Homo sapiens: one gene and its partner. Each later gene encodes a partner of the first gene's protein in a complex. Each region holds a gene or a part of one and is shown on either strand. Other genes may lie near its edges. A codon is read from its position in the direction of its gene.

What was found.
Region 2: the proteins of GABARAPL2 (region 1) and IRGQ are in contact, whole or in part, in a crystal structure (PDB 8Q6Q), measured with the Homo sapiens proteins. Residues at the interface, in NP_009216.1 of Homo sapiens: Ser10 (codon at 4,663), Glu12 (codon at 4,669), His13 (codon at 5,003), Cys15 (codon at 5,009), Val16 (codon at 5,012), Glu17 (codon at 5,015), Ala19 (codon at 5,021), Lys20 (codon at 5,024), Ile21 (codon at 5,027), Ala23 (codon at 5,033), Lys24 (codon at 5,036), Tyr25 (codon at 5,039), Arg28 (codon at 5,048), Pro30 (codon at 5,054), Lys46 (codon at 6,231), Lys48 (codon at 6,237), Tyr49 (codon at 6,240), Leu50 (codon at 6,243), Val51 (codon at 6,246), Pro52 (codon at 6,249), Phe60 (codon at 6,273), Ile63 (codon at 6,282), Arg67 (codon at 6,294), Phe104; in NP_001007562.1 of Homo sapiens: Asp7 (codon at 2,187), Thr9 (codon at 2,181), Leu11 (codon at 2,175), Pro47 (codon at 2,067), Leu49 (codon at 2,061), Phe57 (codon at 2,037), Pro70 (codon at 1,998), Trp71 (codon at 1,995), Glu74 (codon at 1,986), Pro181 (codon at 224), Ala182 (codon at 221), Gln183 (codon at 218), Asp184 (codon at 215), Gly185 (codon at 212), Phe186 (codon at 209), Glu187 (codon at 206), Val188 (codon at 203), Leu189 (codon at 200).

Annotation. Positions count from the first base shown.
Region 1 is NC_000016.10:75,561,852-75,569,378, forward strand, and holds the start of GABARAPL2 (gamma-aminobutyric acid receptor-associated protein-like 2), read left to right. Parts: upstream 1-4,527; 5' UTR 4,528-4,635; coding exon 4,636-4,669; intron 4,670-5,000; coding exon 5,001-5,056; intron 5,057-6,185; coding exon 6,186-6,358; intron 6,359-7,527. UniProt on the Homo sapiens protein: Ubiquitin-like modifier involved in intra-Golgi traffic. Modulates intra-Golgi transport through coupling between NSF activity and SNAREs activation. It first stimulates the ATPase activity of NSF which in turn stimulates the association with GOSR1.
Region 2 is NC_000019.10:43,593,134-43,600,947, forward strand, and holds the start of IRGQ (immunity-related GTPase family Q protein), read right to left. Parts: upstream 3,002-7,814; 5' UTR 2,849-3,001; intron 2,208-2,848; 5' UTR 2,206-2,207; coding exon 1,676-2,205; intron 235-1,675; coding exon 1-234. Other genes in the region: ZNF576 (zinc finger protein 576), read left to right, coding at 3,976-4,060, 5,698-6,125. UniProt on the Homo sapiens protein: Autophagy receptor that specifically promotes clearance of misfolded MHC class I molecules by targeting them to the lysosome for degradation.

The DNA of each region.
Region 1 (7,527 bases):
TTAAAACTGCACTTTTTTTTTTTTTTTTTTTTTGAGATGGAGTCTTGTTCTGTAGCCCAGGCTGGAGTGCAGTGGGGCGATCTCGGCTCACTGCAACCTCCGCCTCCCGGGTTCAAGCGATTCTCCTGCCTCAGCCTCCTGAGTAGCTGGGATTACAGGCGCTCACCACCACGCCTGGTGAATTTTTTTTTTTTTTTTTGTATTTTTAGTAGAGACGGGGTTTCACCTTATTGGTCAGGCTGGTCTCGAACTCCTGACCTCATGATCCGCCTGCCTTGGCCTCCTAAAGTGCTGGGATTACAGGCGTGAGCCACCGCACCTGGCCACATTTTTTTTTTCTTGAGATGGAGTCTCACCCTGTCGCTCAGGCTGGAGTGCAGTGGCACTATCTTGGCTCACTGCAACCTCCACCTCCTGGGCTCAGGCGATTCTCATGCCTGCAGCCTCCTGAGTAGCTGGGACCACAGGTGCGTGCCACCATGCCTGGCTAATTTTTGTATTTTCAGTAAAGACGGGGTTTCACCATGTTGGCCAGTCTGGTCTAGAACTCCTGGCCTGAGGTGATCCACCTGCCTCGGCCTCCCAGAGTGCTGGGATTACAGGCATGAGCCACTGCACCCAGCCCCAAATTGCACATTTTAATCATGTTCTTCTCTCCTTTATAGGAGCTCTTATTCAGGGTCTCCTGAATTAGGTTAGAACTTCTGAATGTTTGCTTCAAAGCTTTCCAACATTTTATTTACTTATCTATACTGCTTTTCTGTTCCCTCTTCCAACCCCAGCCTTTGTTTTTATCTGGAAAGGAAAAGTTTACCCAATGAAAATGTACCCTTCTCTCTACAACAGAAGATTCACATTCTCTGTGAAGTCTTCCTTGCTAATTCTCACTTGGCTTTGTGCTGGCCCCTATTGCCCTAGCAATGCCTCAGTATCCATGTTCACATACCTCTCCAACATTTGAAATTCATTCTCTGTGTTTTATAGATTTGTTAATGTGTAATTACGTTGCATATATTCATTATCCTATTTCTCCTCCTGACTTACGTCCTTAACTAACCACTCCCTCAAGGAAGGCATCCAGTGTCCTTAGAACATTCCATAGCTAAATACAATGACCCAATATGTAAAGAAGGTGGTACATATCATCAAGGTGGATGAAATAAGTCAATTAGAATGGTGAACTGGGAAAACACACCAAGAAAGTAGGTAAGGATGGAAGACCAAAATGCATTGCACATCATTGAGACCATCAAAAGACATGTCTATGAATTGGTGTGCAGTGAAATTTTCCCCTAAGAAGTGTTCTCAGCTCTTTCACATGCAAGACAATATACATATATTTTGGACTAGGATGCAATGACCAGCTCTGTAAAGGGAAGCAGGGGTGTTGAGTCCAATTTCTAACTCCTCCACTGGTTCACTGACTAGGAGATGGTGAACAACCATCTTCATTCTTCAGTGTTTAATTCTATTTGTAAAATAGGTATTTTCTTTTTTTGAGACGGAGTTTCGCTCTTGTTGCCCAGGCTGGAGTGGAGTGGCGCGATCTCAGCTCACTGCAACCTCTGCCTCCTAAGTAAAAGCAATTCTCCTGTCTCAGCCTCCCAAGTAGCTGCGATTACAGGCATGTGCCACCATACCTGGCTAATTGTTTTGTATTTAGCAGAGACGGGGTTTCAACACGTTAGTCAGGCTGGTCATGAACTCCTGACTTCAGGTGATCCACCTGCCTCGGCCTCCCAAAGTGCTGGGATTACAGGCATATGCCACTGCACCCGGCCAAGTATTTTCATTTTTAAACTCACTGTCTACCTAATCTTACCCAGTTTAATAGCTTGAAATATTTCTCTCTAAATTTGAGACTCATAGCACCATTCACCAACTCTACATCTTCACTTGTGTATGTCCCTTGGACATCTCATATTTAATATCTCAAAAACCAAACTCTTGTTTTTCACTCCCCAAGCTGGCTCCACCCTATTTCAGTAAATGGCAATTCCATCCTTCCAAAAACCTTGATTTTGATCTGTCCCTCATGTCTTACATCCAATCTATCAGCAACTGTTACCAGTTTTACCTTCGAAATATATCCAGAATACAACTGCTTCCCATCACCTCTGTAGACCCCACCTTGGCCAAAGCCAACATCATCTTTCACCAGGATTATCACAATAGTGTCTCAACTATTTCCCTGCTTCCACCCTCAGCGCCTACAGTCTACTAAGCTAGCCTTTTGAAAAGGAAAGGCAGATTGTGTTACGTCTCTGCTTAAACCCCTACACTGACTTCTCATCTCATTCTAAATAAAATCCAAAGCTCTTTGCATGGAATTCAAAGCTCAACACAGTTTTGTTCTAGATATCTTTGAATTTGTCTCATAACACACTCTCCTCTCTCATTTATTCAGCTCCAGCCACAGGGGTTCCCTAGAATATGCCAGGCACTTTATCTAATTAGCATTCCATCCCACCACACTCTCTAGTCACCTACTGTGCTTTATTTTTCGAAATAGCACCTATCATTACCTAACATACTTATTTTTTGTCTTATCCCACTAGAATATGTCAGGGGGACAAGAATATCTCATGCTGCCACCCATGAGAATAGGGATGTCATCTGTCTTCTTCACTGTTTTTCCCCAGCACCTAGCACAGAGCTCTTGTATGTAACAATAATTTCTAAGTAGGAAATTCAAAGGATTTTTTCCACTTCATTAAAAACAAACAAACAGATGCAGTGGCTCACACCTGTAATCCTAGCACTTTGGGAGGCCGAGGCGGGCAAATCACTTACTTGAGGTGAGAAGTTCAAGACCAGCCTGGCGAACATGACAAAACCCCATCTCTACCAAAAATACAAAAATTAGCTGGGTGTGGTGGTGTGTCCCTGTAGTCCCAGCTACTCAGGAGGCTGAGGCAGCAGAATCGCTTGAACCCAGGAGGCAGACTGCAGTAAGCCAAGATTGTGCCACTGAACTCCAGCCTGGGTGACAGAGAAAGACCCTGTCTCCAAAAAACAAAAACAAAAACAAAGAAACAAAAAAACCTATTCTAGTTACTCAGACACACAGTCTTAAAATAACAAAAATACTTATAGAATGAAGCTAGATTCCACAGCATCGATCAGGAATTTCCAGTGTAGGAAATGATGAACTACCACATTCAAACATACAGGCTTTACAGGTGCATCAGAATCACAAGCACGTGGCAGGGTTCATGTGCCCAATTAAGTGAATATTCCTGCTACATGTTCAGCAGCTTATAAACAGATGGTGACCCAGACCAGACTGCCTTGATGAGTCTGCTTGGAAAAAAGGCATTACATCACTGATTGGAGAACCTCAAAGCATATGTCCGGGCAGGTGACACACACACAGCTCAGGCTGTGATTGCTAAACCACTCCCACAGCCAAATAAGGAAACCCATCTCATGACCAGCTCTCAGGGGAATTCTCCGAGTCTGACAGTCACCTCTAACTCCTCTGCCAGTTAAAATTAAGGGGTCTGTGATCAGTGATGTTACACTCCTCAAATGTGCATTTTTTTTTGAGGCGGAGTCTTGCTCTGTTGCCCAGGCTGGAGTGCAGTGGTGTGATCTCGGCTCACTGCCACCTCCACCTCCCTGGTTCAAACGATTCTCCTGCCTCAGCCTCCCGAGGAGCTGGGACTACAGGCGCCCACTACCATGCCTGGCTAATTTTTGTATTTTTAGTAGAGACGGGGTTTCACCATGTTGGCCAGGCTGGTCTTCAACTCCTGACCTCAGGTGATCCACCCGCGTCGGCCTCCCAAAGTGTTGGGATTACAGGCGTGAGCCACCGTACCCCGCCTCAAATGTGCATTTGTGATACCTTTTCGTAAATGTTTATTCAAATATTTATTCACGAATAAAGGAAGAAAACGGGATTTGTTTAAATTCAATTTCTAGGTCCAAGACAACCTACTACGGCTGTCCCTAATACGGACCTCCGGGTTGTCCTCAGTGCCGCTTCCAACAGTGTCCTCAAACACCCTCCCCTCCCATAATGAGCCCCCAACCTGTCACCACTCCGAGCAATACTCCCCAAACTGTCAACGCCCTAAACAGCTCCCTTGTTATCGCCAAGCTCTAGAAAGCCCTCCTTATGTCATTCTTACCCCTAAAGACCGTTCTTGTCACCAATTCCCCAGACTTCCCCTATGAACCGCTCTAAGAGCCCTCAGCTATCAGCCACACCCCCAAACAGCCCTCAGTAAGAGCCCTACACTATCAGCCAGACGTTTTCCGCCACCAACGCTCCCGAGACCCCACTCCTGTCACCAGTTCCCCGAACATTCCTGCGAGCAATGTCGCAGATACTGCTCACAGACGTCCCCATAACCAACTTCTTCGCCACCGCAGCCCAGGAGCCCCCAAAGGGGTCCTCCGCGGCCCCGCCCCTTTACGTGCGGCCCCGCCCCTTGGCGTGGCGCCCTGACAAATGGCGCCGGAAGCCCCGCCCCCGGCCGGTTGCTAGGCTCCGACAGCCGGAAGTCCCGCCTGCCGTGTAGTCGCCGCCGTCGCTGCCGCTGCCGCTGCCGCCGTCGTTGTTGTTGTGCTCGGTGCGCTGAGCTCCGCGGCTCCGCGAGCCGGTTCCGTCCCCTTCCCGCCGCCGCCATGAAGTGGATGTTCAAGGAGGACCACTCGCTGGGTAAGCACTTGGTCGTCGGCCCGGCTGCTGGGGGCTGGGGCGGCGGGTGGGCCCCCTCCCCCACTCGGGCGGCCCTGGGCCGAGTGGAGCGGGGCGGATGCCCTGCTGCGGGCTGGAGTCGCCCATGCCCTGGTGCCTCGGGCAGCGGCCCCCTGACCCCATGTCACCCTCCGCGGGCCTTGCTGGGAGCTAGTAGGGGACAGGACCGCGGCCCCGGGGACGCCGGAACCAGGGCCTGGGTTGTACGCAGGGCGCAGGAGGAGGAGGGCCGGGGGCCGGGAACCGACCGGTGGGCAGGCGCGGCCGTCAGCCCCGTTTGTTTCTCCCACAGAACACAGATGCGTGGAGTCCGCGAAGATTCGAGCGAAATATCCCGACAGGGTTCCGGTGAGTGGACTCTCCGCCCCCTCACCTCGCTGTCACCTCTGTCGTCTGGGACCCGTGATAGGCCCCAGGCCATTCAACAGTTGACAAGTTGAGGTTCCAGTCCCAGTTACAGTAGCTGACGGGCCAGACCGGGATGAGGCCGCCCAGGGCCGGGGCGTGAGGGGCTCGGGCTGGTGCTGTTCAGGGTGCCTCAGTGCTGAATCTCCCGATCTAGGCCAGCGAGCCGTCTGCAGCCTCGGGGCTCCCTGGCCAATTATGTAAGGAACGATGTTCTAGGACAGGGCAACAGGTCACTGCCACTTTTGGGAATGGTGGTGGAGGGAGACTGTCATTTTGGTCTTGGAAGTGGTACTTGAGTCTCAGGACGTTCATCTTTTACTTTGTCTCCATCTTTACCTAACTTCTAGCTCCGTTATCTCACCTTGACCCTGTCATCCTTGCCTGACCAAAATAATGTGAAAAGCCGCTGAAAACCCCTTCTGCCATATTTTCTTCTTAGTCAATAATAAATATAATGTTATATTTCTTCCATGGTTGGGGAGATAGTTTTGTAATCGTTATTAATTTTTAATGGACATTAAGGCCTGTTATTGTAGCTCTTTGCTTGTGAATAATTTGTCTGGGGAAAGGAGTAGGAGGGACGGATTTGAAACTTGTTCAGAGAGGAGCAACAGGCCAAATGAAGAACTTGGTTCTTGGCTGGCTAAAATTCCAGGCATTCCAATTAGTCCATCCATTCTTGTCTCCTGTGTTCCTTGGGAACACAGTAGTGTTTCCTGTAGTGTGAAGGTGGATCCATTCTGGGGTCCTGGAGTAACGGGCCATGGATGAAACCCTCCCCAGATATTCTTAGGTCTGCCCAGATAAAATGTGGAAAAGCTTAGTGGTAAGGGCTGCATTTCTCTTACATAATTGACCACAGAAAAGCACTTACTGTTTCCCTGTAACACATTTATATCAATTCTTAACCTCCAGAGCGTGTGGTTTATTAAGCCAAAGACATATTTTCTCCTGCTATGCAGTTCCCCACCCACCTCCTTGCCCACACTCTGTTCATCAGCTCCTCAGCCATGTGAGGCCAGAGCCTCGCTTTAGGAAACACAGTCCTGACCTCTCTTTACTTTCCCAGGTGATTGTGGAAAAGGTCTCAGGCTCTCAGATTGTTGACATTGACAAACGGAAGTACTTGGTTCCATCTGATATCACTGTGGCTCAGTTCATGTGGATCATCAGGAAAAGGATCCAGCTTCCTTCTGAAAAGGCGATCTTCCTGTTTGTGGATAAGACAGTCCCACAGTCCAGGTGAGAGGTGTTTACTAGATGGGCCCTCTGGTATTAGACATCTGGTTGGCTGCTTACGGAACTCCAAAACTTTGGAAGTCTGAAAACTCTTAGGGGTCCTGACTAGAAATCTGGATTTTATGCTCCCTGACATCAGGGGCTCCAGGAAAATAATGGCTGCAATACATAAGAGTGCATTTTGGATTCAGAAAATAGAACAAGGCCTGGACTTTTAAAAAAATGATGAAACTCAGCCTAAGATCTCCAAGAATCTTTTAAAACGGTTGAGAACTTATTTAGTCTTAAGCTATAGGTAGAACTGAGGCCTGAAATGAGGTTTTCTTCCCTGAAGGCAGTCCTGGCATGCTCCTCCACTGGGAGCCTGTGGGCCCTGCTGAGGCTCACTCAGTTAATCATCCAGTTTGCTTGCTCCCAAACTTGGTCAACTCTTTGACATTGTAAGAGTCTATAGCTGCCTGATCCTCAAGTCTGACAAAATGACTGCGGCACAGTAAAGGGCTCTGAAGTCTCTTTACAGACTTATACCTCCCTTGGTAGCACTTGCTTTGACTGTCAGACTATTGTGCTGCCTGGAAGCAATCTTTGGGACTGTAACTTGTGGCCTGAATGTAGGCAGAGGCATTAGAATTCCCGTTTTCTGTGTGTTTGACAGCCCAGCTTTAGTCCCCTGTGGAAAAAGGAAAGTGGATGGGCTCCGTCTAACCTCCTGGTCAGTCCTTTCCCGTTACTGAGTGGGTAGTTGTAGGCCCTGATCCAGATTCCAGCCCCCACCTCTCCCCTGAGTGTGAGTTTCTGGCCACATCTTATCTTTGTGACCCAATCTAGGTTTCATTTACCACTCCCAGAAGTAATACTTCTAAAAGTGAAGGCTCTCAGAAGCCCTGGGAACTAGCCCAATGTTGTCCAAATAGGTTCCTGTTGAAAATCCTTGAAGACTCCAGAAGAGGCCTGTGCCAAATTCCAGACCTTATTTCTGTTAAAGGTGGAAAGCTCTGGCCATTTTTTGGTCTGATTTCCTCTTTCCCAGTGTCCTCCACCTCTACTTCCTGGTGTCTGATAGAAAGGCAGGGGAGAAATGGAAGCTCCTTCCCTAAGGCCAGTATTCAACCTGAGGAGACACCCCAGGGCCTGCCCACTGGACGCCATTGGTCTGCCACAGCTGTAGCTCT
Region 2 (7,814 bases), on another chromosome or scaffold:
GCAGGCGCAGCGCCTGGGTCGCCAGGATCCAATCCAAGCAGCATGTCCACCACAAGGCCCACGTCAGCCTTGCCAGCCACGGCCAGGTCTAGCCGTGCGCTGCCCAGGCGCTCCAGGCCTGAGCGCACCCACGACAGCGCAGCCTCAAGGCCGCCGGTCTCAAAGGCCTCACGCACAGCCTCTAGCTCTGCTGCACCCAACACCTCGAAGCCATCCTGCGCCGGTGGCAGGAGCCTGTGGGGACAAGAAGGGACAGGGTCAAAGGTAGAAGAGGGGCTGGGTGACATGGACTGGGCTATGATGACAAGGGCAGAGCTTTCCTAATGATCCCAGAATGGGGCAGGGGTAGGAAAGGGAAGGGCCAGACTGATGGCACAGCAAATAGAAACCAGATAGGGAGAGGCAGTGATGATATGGGTGGGGCTTCAAGCAATAATGGAGTCTTGATTATTGGACGGGTGGACATAAGGTCAGGTTTCCCACCCCAGCCTAAAATGGGGATTGGGCTAAAACTTCCATGGAATACAGTATTTGGGGGCGGGGTTTTTCCAAGGGTCGGCTGTGCTGGGTGGGACAAAGCTCACAGAGGGTGGGGCCTAGAACAAAGAATCGCAACTGTATTGTGGCCTAAACACAAGTCCAGCACTATTTGAGACAAGGTCCCCAAGGGCACTCTTTTCAGGGGCTGGGCCTAAGGAGGGTCAGTGAGGGGAGAAATCTCATCTACCAGTTCTTACCAAGGGGGAGTGGCTAAGGTGACTCCCGGGCAGGTGAGGCTAAGGAAAAAAGATGACAGTGTACTGGGACAAGGGACTGTCCCTCTCTGAGCCTCGTTTTAAAGTCTTTAAAATGAGGAGGCTGGCAGGTGGTAGAGCAAATCCAGGAGGTAGCCAGCAAGTGGGCACAGAAACAAGAGGGAGCTGGAGAAAGGAGGTAGATGAGGATGCCCCAAAATAATAAAGCTCATTGCGGGTGTGGCTTTAGGTGCTTGAAAACAAAACTGATGGTGGGGAGGGCTCAAAGATTAGAGTTTTCAGGTAAAATCTTCCAGGGGGCTGGGCAGAGAGTCTCACGACTGTAATCCCAGCACTTTGGGAGGCCAAGGAGGGTGGATCACCTTGGTGGGGGCAGGGCCTGGAAAAAGGAGCCTCAGGGCCCCAGCAGATAAAGTGTTAAGCCTTTCCCTTTTAATTCTAGGGCTTTGGGAAGCCTGGGTGGGGGCATGGCTTGAGGCCAAGAGTTCAAGACCAGCCTGGGGAAACAGTGAGATGCTGTTTTGCAGCCTGTAGTATTAGCTACTCTGGAGGCTGAGGCAGGAGGATCATTTGAGCCCAGGAGGTGGAGGCCGTCAGTGAGCTAGGATCGCGGCACTGCACTCCAGCCTGGGCGACAGAGTGAGAACCTGTCTCAAAAAAAAAGGCCGGGTGTGGTGGTTCACGCCTGTAATCCTAGCACTTTGGGAGGCTGAGGCGGGAGTATTGCTTAAGGCCAGGAGTTCAAATTCAACCTAGCCAACATAGCGAGACCCTGTCTCTCAGGAAAAAAAAAAAAATAATAATAATAGAGCTAAGCCTTGCCCCAAACTCACTGGGGGAGGGATCTCATGGACCTCCATGGTCGCACCTAGGTGCCTAGGGTCTCGACTAACGGACCCAGCCAGAAAGCCGGCACTCACCTCCGCAGCGCTTCTGCCTGGCTCTGCAGCGCCGCCCGGAGGCGCTCTAGCTCCTCGCAGCCGTCGCTGCTGCCGCAGTTCGCCGGTAGCACAAACAGATCCGCAGCTCCTAACCCCGCGCTGTTCAGCAGAGCTGCTGTCTGATCACGGGCCTGGGCGGCAGTCTGTGAATCCCCAGGACGGAGGTTCCGCACAGCCAGTAGCGGGGTCCCTCGGGCCAGGGCGGCCAGCGCTGCCTCTCCCAGGGCTGGAGCCAACGGTTCCCCGTTCCCCTCGGGTCCGGGCAGCACCAGTACCAGCACGTTGGCTTCCGCCGCCCAGGGCCCCGGCGCTGCGGGTGGGCAGCTCAGCTCGCCCAGAAAAAGGCCTGGGCCCGCAGCTCTTAGGCTGGGAACCCCGGAGTCCGGCCGTCCCTCGGGGGCCTCGAGCGTCTCCACATCCTTGTCGCACAGCGCTGCGATCAGCGCGGACTTCCCCAAGCCCGGAGGCCCCAGGAACAAGGCGGTCACGTCACCCTGCGGCGGAGGCATGGCTGGAAAGCAACGGGTAGAGAAGACCTGGGTCAGGGAGCACCTAGCCTTTTCCTTTCCTAGCCGCCCCACTCGGAACCCAGGCCTCAGTCCTTCACCCTGTCCCCTTCGGTTCTTGAGTGTCACTCTCCAGGACCTAAAAAATCCAGAGCCCAGACCCTATTCCCCCAGAATCCCAGGCGTCCTGTCTGTCCGCCCTCCCTCTAGATGGAAACGTTTCCCTTTCTGCTTCAAAAACTCTGAAATCAGGCGCGGTGGCTCATGCCTGTAATCCCAGTGCTTTGGGAGGCCGAGGCCGGAGGATCGCTTGAGGCCAGGAATTCGAGACCAGCCTGGCCAACATGTGGGGGGACTCTCTGGTAGAGTCTCCGTCTCGATAAAAAATAAAATTTAGCCGGGCATGGTGGTGTGCGCCTGTAGCCCCAGCTACTCGGAAGGCTGCGGCGGGAGGATCGCTTGAGCCCAGGACTTGGAGGCTGCAGTGGGCCGTGATCACACCACCGCACTCCAGCCCAGGCGACAGAGCAAGACCCTCTCTGAAAAATAAATAAAAATAAAACCTCAGAAATCTGGCTTCCAGTCCCTCCTCCCTCGGACACATTGTTATTTTCATCTTTCCCCTTCCCCCTTCCAAATCACCAACCGAGCAAAAAGCCGACCCACGGGAGAGAGCGCAGTCGGTGGCAGTAGGTCAGCAGCTGAGAAGCCCGGCCCCTGGGCCGCGGCGGACGGAGGCCGAAGAGGCCAGGGAGCGGTGATTTAGAGATGCCGGGACCCGTCCCGGTAGCTTTAACCTGACGTCACTCCCTCTCCCAAGGGGGTGTGTCTTGGAAGGCCGACAGCAGAGACCCAGCCCTTCGCCGCGCCTGCGCAGAACGGCCGAAGTGTGCACGCCCCTCTTTGGCGGCCTCAGGGCCTAGAACAATGAATGAGTCAACGCGCCTGCGCGCCACGAGAGCCTACCCACGCATGCGCAAAAGGCTTAGCTAGCTAAGCCGCGGGAGGCTGAACGTCATCAAACGCGCCATAGGGCAGAGAAGGACCCCTCCCGTTATTTTGAGGACCGGGCTGGTGCGACTATACTACTGCCGGATGGCAAATCCGGGATCTCGGCTCCGAGAGGCTCATCTGGCAAAAGGGCGCGGAAACCACGGGGGCCCTGAGACTGAGTGGTCCCTATCCCACTTCTCTCTGGGGCGGCGCTGTAGCCAGCGGCTGACAGGCGCAGCGAAAGGCAGCCCTCTGCTGTAAGGAGGAAAACTGAGGCCTGGGAGCAGGAACCTGTAGGCAGCGCTTGAGGGTAGCGGGATAGCAGCTGCAAGCGCGCGTGGGAGGCGGGGGCTCTGGGCGGAACAAAAATCACAGGATGTCAGAGGATGTTTCCCGGGAAGAACTGGGATAAAGGGTGGGTATCACTACCTGCCCCAAGACACTTGAGATTGGGATGACGCTGGTGTCAAAGATCAAGGCTTCCACGCTGAGTTCAGGGAGTTAGTTTGATGCAGCAGGTCATAGGTCACACCAGTGAGAAGACTCTAGGGGAGTCCCAAACCCAGGAAATCCAGTCCTTTGGGAGGTTTGAAGCTTCTTTTAGCAAGAACTCCATCAATTAGAGTTCAAGGAGATAGTATGTCGTAGGGGTCAAAGGCAGGCAAGGAGAGCCTCTGGCGATGTCAAAGGTCATAGACTTAGGGTGCCCTCTAAGACTGGTAACAGATGAACAGCTTCACTTATGCACGCTCCTCTCCTGACTAGAAGGGTCCCAGCACCATGGAGGACCCGAACCCTGAAGAGAACATGAAGCAGCAGGATTCACCCAAGGAGAGAAGTCCCCAGAGCCCAGGAGGCAACATCTGTGAGTACACATGGCTGGCGGGCTAGAGGAGGGTGGGGTGCAGGAGCTGATGCTAAGATCTCTGTGGCACTTCGGTGTCCAAGGCGCCACAGAGTTTTGCCTGTTGAGAAGGGGCTGTAATGGTCCCTGAGCTGCTCTAGCAGGAAGTGCATCTCCTCACACCAGCTTATGTGGCCAGAGTACTCACCCTCCTCTGGCCACATAAGCAGGATTGCAATGCTTATGCATTCAGAGGGATAGGGTGGCTTCCAGGAGAGGCTTGGGTTGGAGATGTGGCTGGGAATGGTTCTATTGGGAGAGAAACCCCAAGATTCTGGTCCCAACTCTGCCCTAGACTTTCAGTGTAACTTGGGCCTTGGTTTCCTTGACTGTCAAAAGAGGGTGGTACTTCCCACCTCACAGGGTGGGTATGGGATTAACTGCAGCAAAGGGGAAAGCTAGGGGTTAATGATGGTAGCCAGTTTGACATGTAATAGCAACACCTCCTGCTCAGTGTTTTATTATGAGCTAGGTGTATTTATTCTCATATTATGAACCATTTTAACATTCATTATCTCATTGAGTCCTTCTAATAATAGGCCCTTTAAACTGGGAACTGAGGCAGAGAGAGGTATTTGTAACAAGAGCTGTAGTCTCAATGCCCTTGAGCCAGAGACTACCAGGAACACACCTGCAGTTGAACACGTTGGGTTTCTCACTGCAATGAACACAGACCATGGGGGGACTGTGGGGTGTCTCACTAAGAATGGTAAAAACGACACAGGATTTGGGCTTGTGGGTGGTGATTTTGGGGAAGGTTCAAGCAAAATTGTTTTGCTCTGGATTGGATGCTACCAGGAAGCAGGGGCAATTCTATGATTGGCTATCGTAATAAATCTTACCCAGAAGGAGGAAGGAAGGAGGCGAGGCTCAAGCTCTGACTGATAAAGCAGCAGCAGACATTCACATTAGCCAGGATAGGAGGATGTTTGGTCATTTTTCTGCTTGGACAGTATTCATATTTTGTCTGTGCTCAGACATTATGATGATGTAGTCTTGTCTTGATTCATTTTAGTCACAGCGTGGCCTTGTCTGTCCTTGATATTCTGTGAAAATTTATGTTCAACAGAACACCAAGGTCTAGCTGTGAGTACCAGGCCAGATCCTGGATGTCGGGCTGGATTTCTCTGTATCATTAGTCATAATTGCAAATGACTGTACAGCAATTCATTTATTCCTTCCAACGGTCCTATGGAGTAGATACTGTTATTAGCCCATTTTCCAGATAAGGAAACTGGTGTAATTGCCTAGGAAGTGGTGGAGGTGAGATTCAATCCCAAGCAGTCTGGCTCCAAAGGCTGTGCTGTAATCACCATACCCCTCTGTTGGGCAGGCTGACTCTCTGGGTTCCAACCCTGGCTCCACCATTTCCTTTCCTAGCCTCATGACTATGGGCAACTTGCCTAACCTCTTTGAATCTCAGTTTGCTCATCCATAAAATAGGTGCAAGAACAGTTCTCCTGTTTGGTTGTCCAGCATTAGCATAGAACCTAGCACATAACACATTCAATGTTAATTGTTGGTGTGATTCTGGGGTTCAGGAAGAGGTCTTGGAGACTCCTGCTGGCCTCCCCTGACCTCTCCCCCACATTCCTCAGGCCACCTGGGGGCCCCGAAGTGCACCCGCTGCCTCATCACCTTCGCAGATTCCAAGTTCCAGGAGCGTCACATGAAGCGGGAGCACCCAGCGGACTTCGTGGCCCAGAAGCTGCAGGGGGTCCTCTTCATCTGCTTCACCTGCGCCCGCTCCTTCCCCTCCTCCAAAGCCCTAATCACCCACCAGCGCAGCCACGGTCCAGCCGCCAAGCCCACCCTGCCGGTTGCAACCACTACTGCCCAGCCCACCTTCCCTTGTCCTGACTGTGGCAAGACCTTTGGGCAGGCTGTTTCTCTGAGGCGGCACCGCCAGATGCATGAGGTCCGTGCCCCTCCTGGCACCTTCGCCTGCACAGAGTGCGGTCAGGACTTTGCTCAGGAAGCAGGGCTGCATCAACACTACATTCGGCATGCCCGGGGGGAGCTCTGAGTGCAGCTTAAGCCTCTCCACGGTGACGGGTGGCTCTGTGGCTGGTAGGACTCACCCATGATATGGGGTGCAGGAACTCTGGGGGCCCTGAAGGATTTGCTTCCCTCCCCTGGGAAGGCAGAGGGCTCTTAATAAAGAGGACCCAGAAGATTCTTATTTAGAGCTTCAGTCTTTGGAGCACACAGGGCCTTCGTGAGACAGTGAAATCAGATAATAATGAGATCTTTTGTTAAAAAAAAAAAATGGGAAGGGAGTGCGGGAGAGAAATGGTTTGTGTCTCCCTTATTCCCAGTTAAATACCTAGCTGCAGATTGTGCCATCACCCTTCATTCTTCCCAGATGGATGCCATGGGCTATGGGAGCAAATTGCCCTGGACCTTTGCCTGAATGGGGGCAGGAAAGGTGAGGTGTTGCTGGCCTGTAATGCCACCAGGTGAGTTCCAGATGTGGAGCAACTTGGGCTTTTGGGGATGGGGCAGCAAAGTTGGGAGCTGGACCCCAATTGAGTGGGGGTAGCAATTGGAGTCCTTGTGTCTCTTTTCCACCCCCTGCCATCCTCACTTAGAGGGGCCATGGCACTAGATGGCACTAGTCCCCCGATAATTTATGTCTCGTTGAAATAATTTTGTATATCATTCTAGTCCTGAAATATTTTTTTCATATGTGTAGGTGAAATGGTATGAATAAGCTAACAGGAATAGTATCTAAAAACAGAAAACATCCATATTAAAATGTCTAAACAGGGAGCTCTGGCTTTTGAGTGGGAATTTCCAGAGAACATAAGGGTGTGGGCAGGTGGGGGAACTCAGGCCAGAGTTGGCCTCGCTTTGTGGGGAAACTGGTTTGGAATCAAACAGAGATACCTTCTGTTTCGGGTTTTATTTGGCCAACACTGGGAGATTTCCCATTAAGATCCTATTTTCAGCTCTCTTGAAAGGCCCAACCTAGGCTGACATTGTCAGCAGGGGCAGGACAGAAGTTACAACAGGCTGGAGGGAGCAGTGGGTGTCACCCTCAACTGGAGATGAGTCCCACCAGGCCAGTTTTACCCCCTTAGTTACCTGCCCTGCACCTGCAGACAATGGTCGATGCCTTGCATATAATACTTATAGACTCTGTTTATGTTGAGGGATGTTTTTAAAGCCCACAGGTGAGGTGGATGTGGTAGACTGATCACTGTCTCTGTTTTTAGCTAGGCACACAGTAGCTGAAAAGACTGCATTTCCCAGATTCCTTTGCAGCTAGATGTGGCCTTGTGACTGATTTCTGGCTAAATTCCTGGGTAGAACAGTCAAGCTTAAGAAAGGGACGGCTGGGCACAGTGGCTCACGCCTGTAATCCCAGCACTTTGTGAGGCTGAGGCCGGTGGATCACCTGAGGTCAGGAGTTTGAGACCAGCCTGGCCAACATGGTGAAACCCTGTCTCTACCAAAAATACAAAAATTAGCCGGGTGTGGTGGCATATGCCTGTAATCCCAGCTACTTGGGAGGCTGAGGCAGGAGAATTGCTTGAACCTGGGAGACAGGTTGCAGTGAGCCAAGATCGTGCCATTGCACTTCAGCCTGGGTGACAGAGTGAGACTGTTTAAAAAAAAAGAAAAGAAAGGGACATACCTTTTTTCCACCTTCCTAACTGTAATACGGAAATGGTATCCAGCCATCTCAGACCATAAGGATAAGAGCAACACG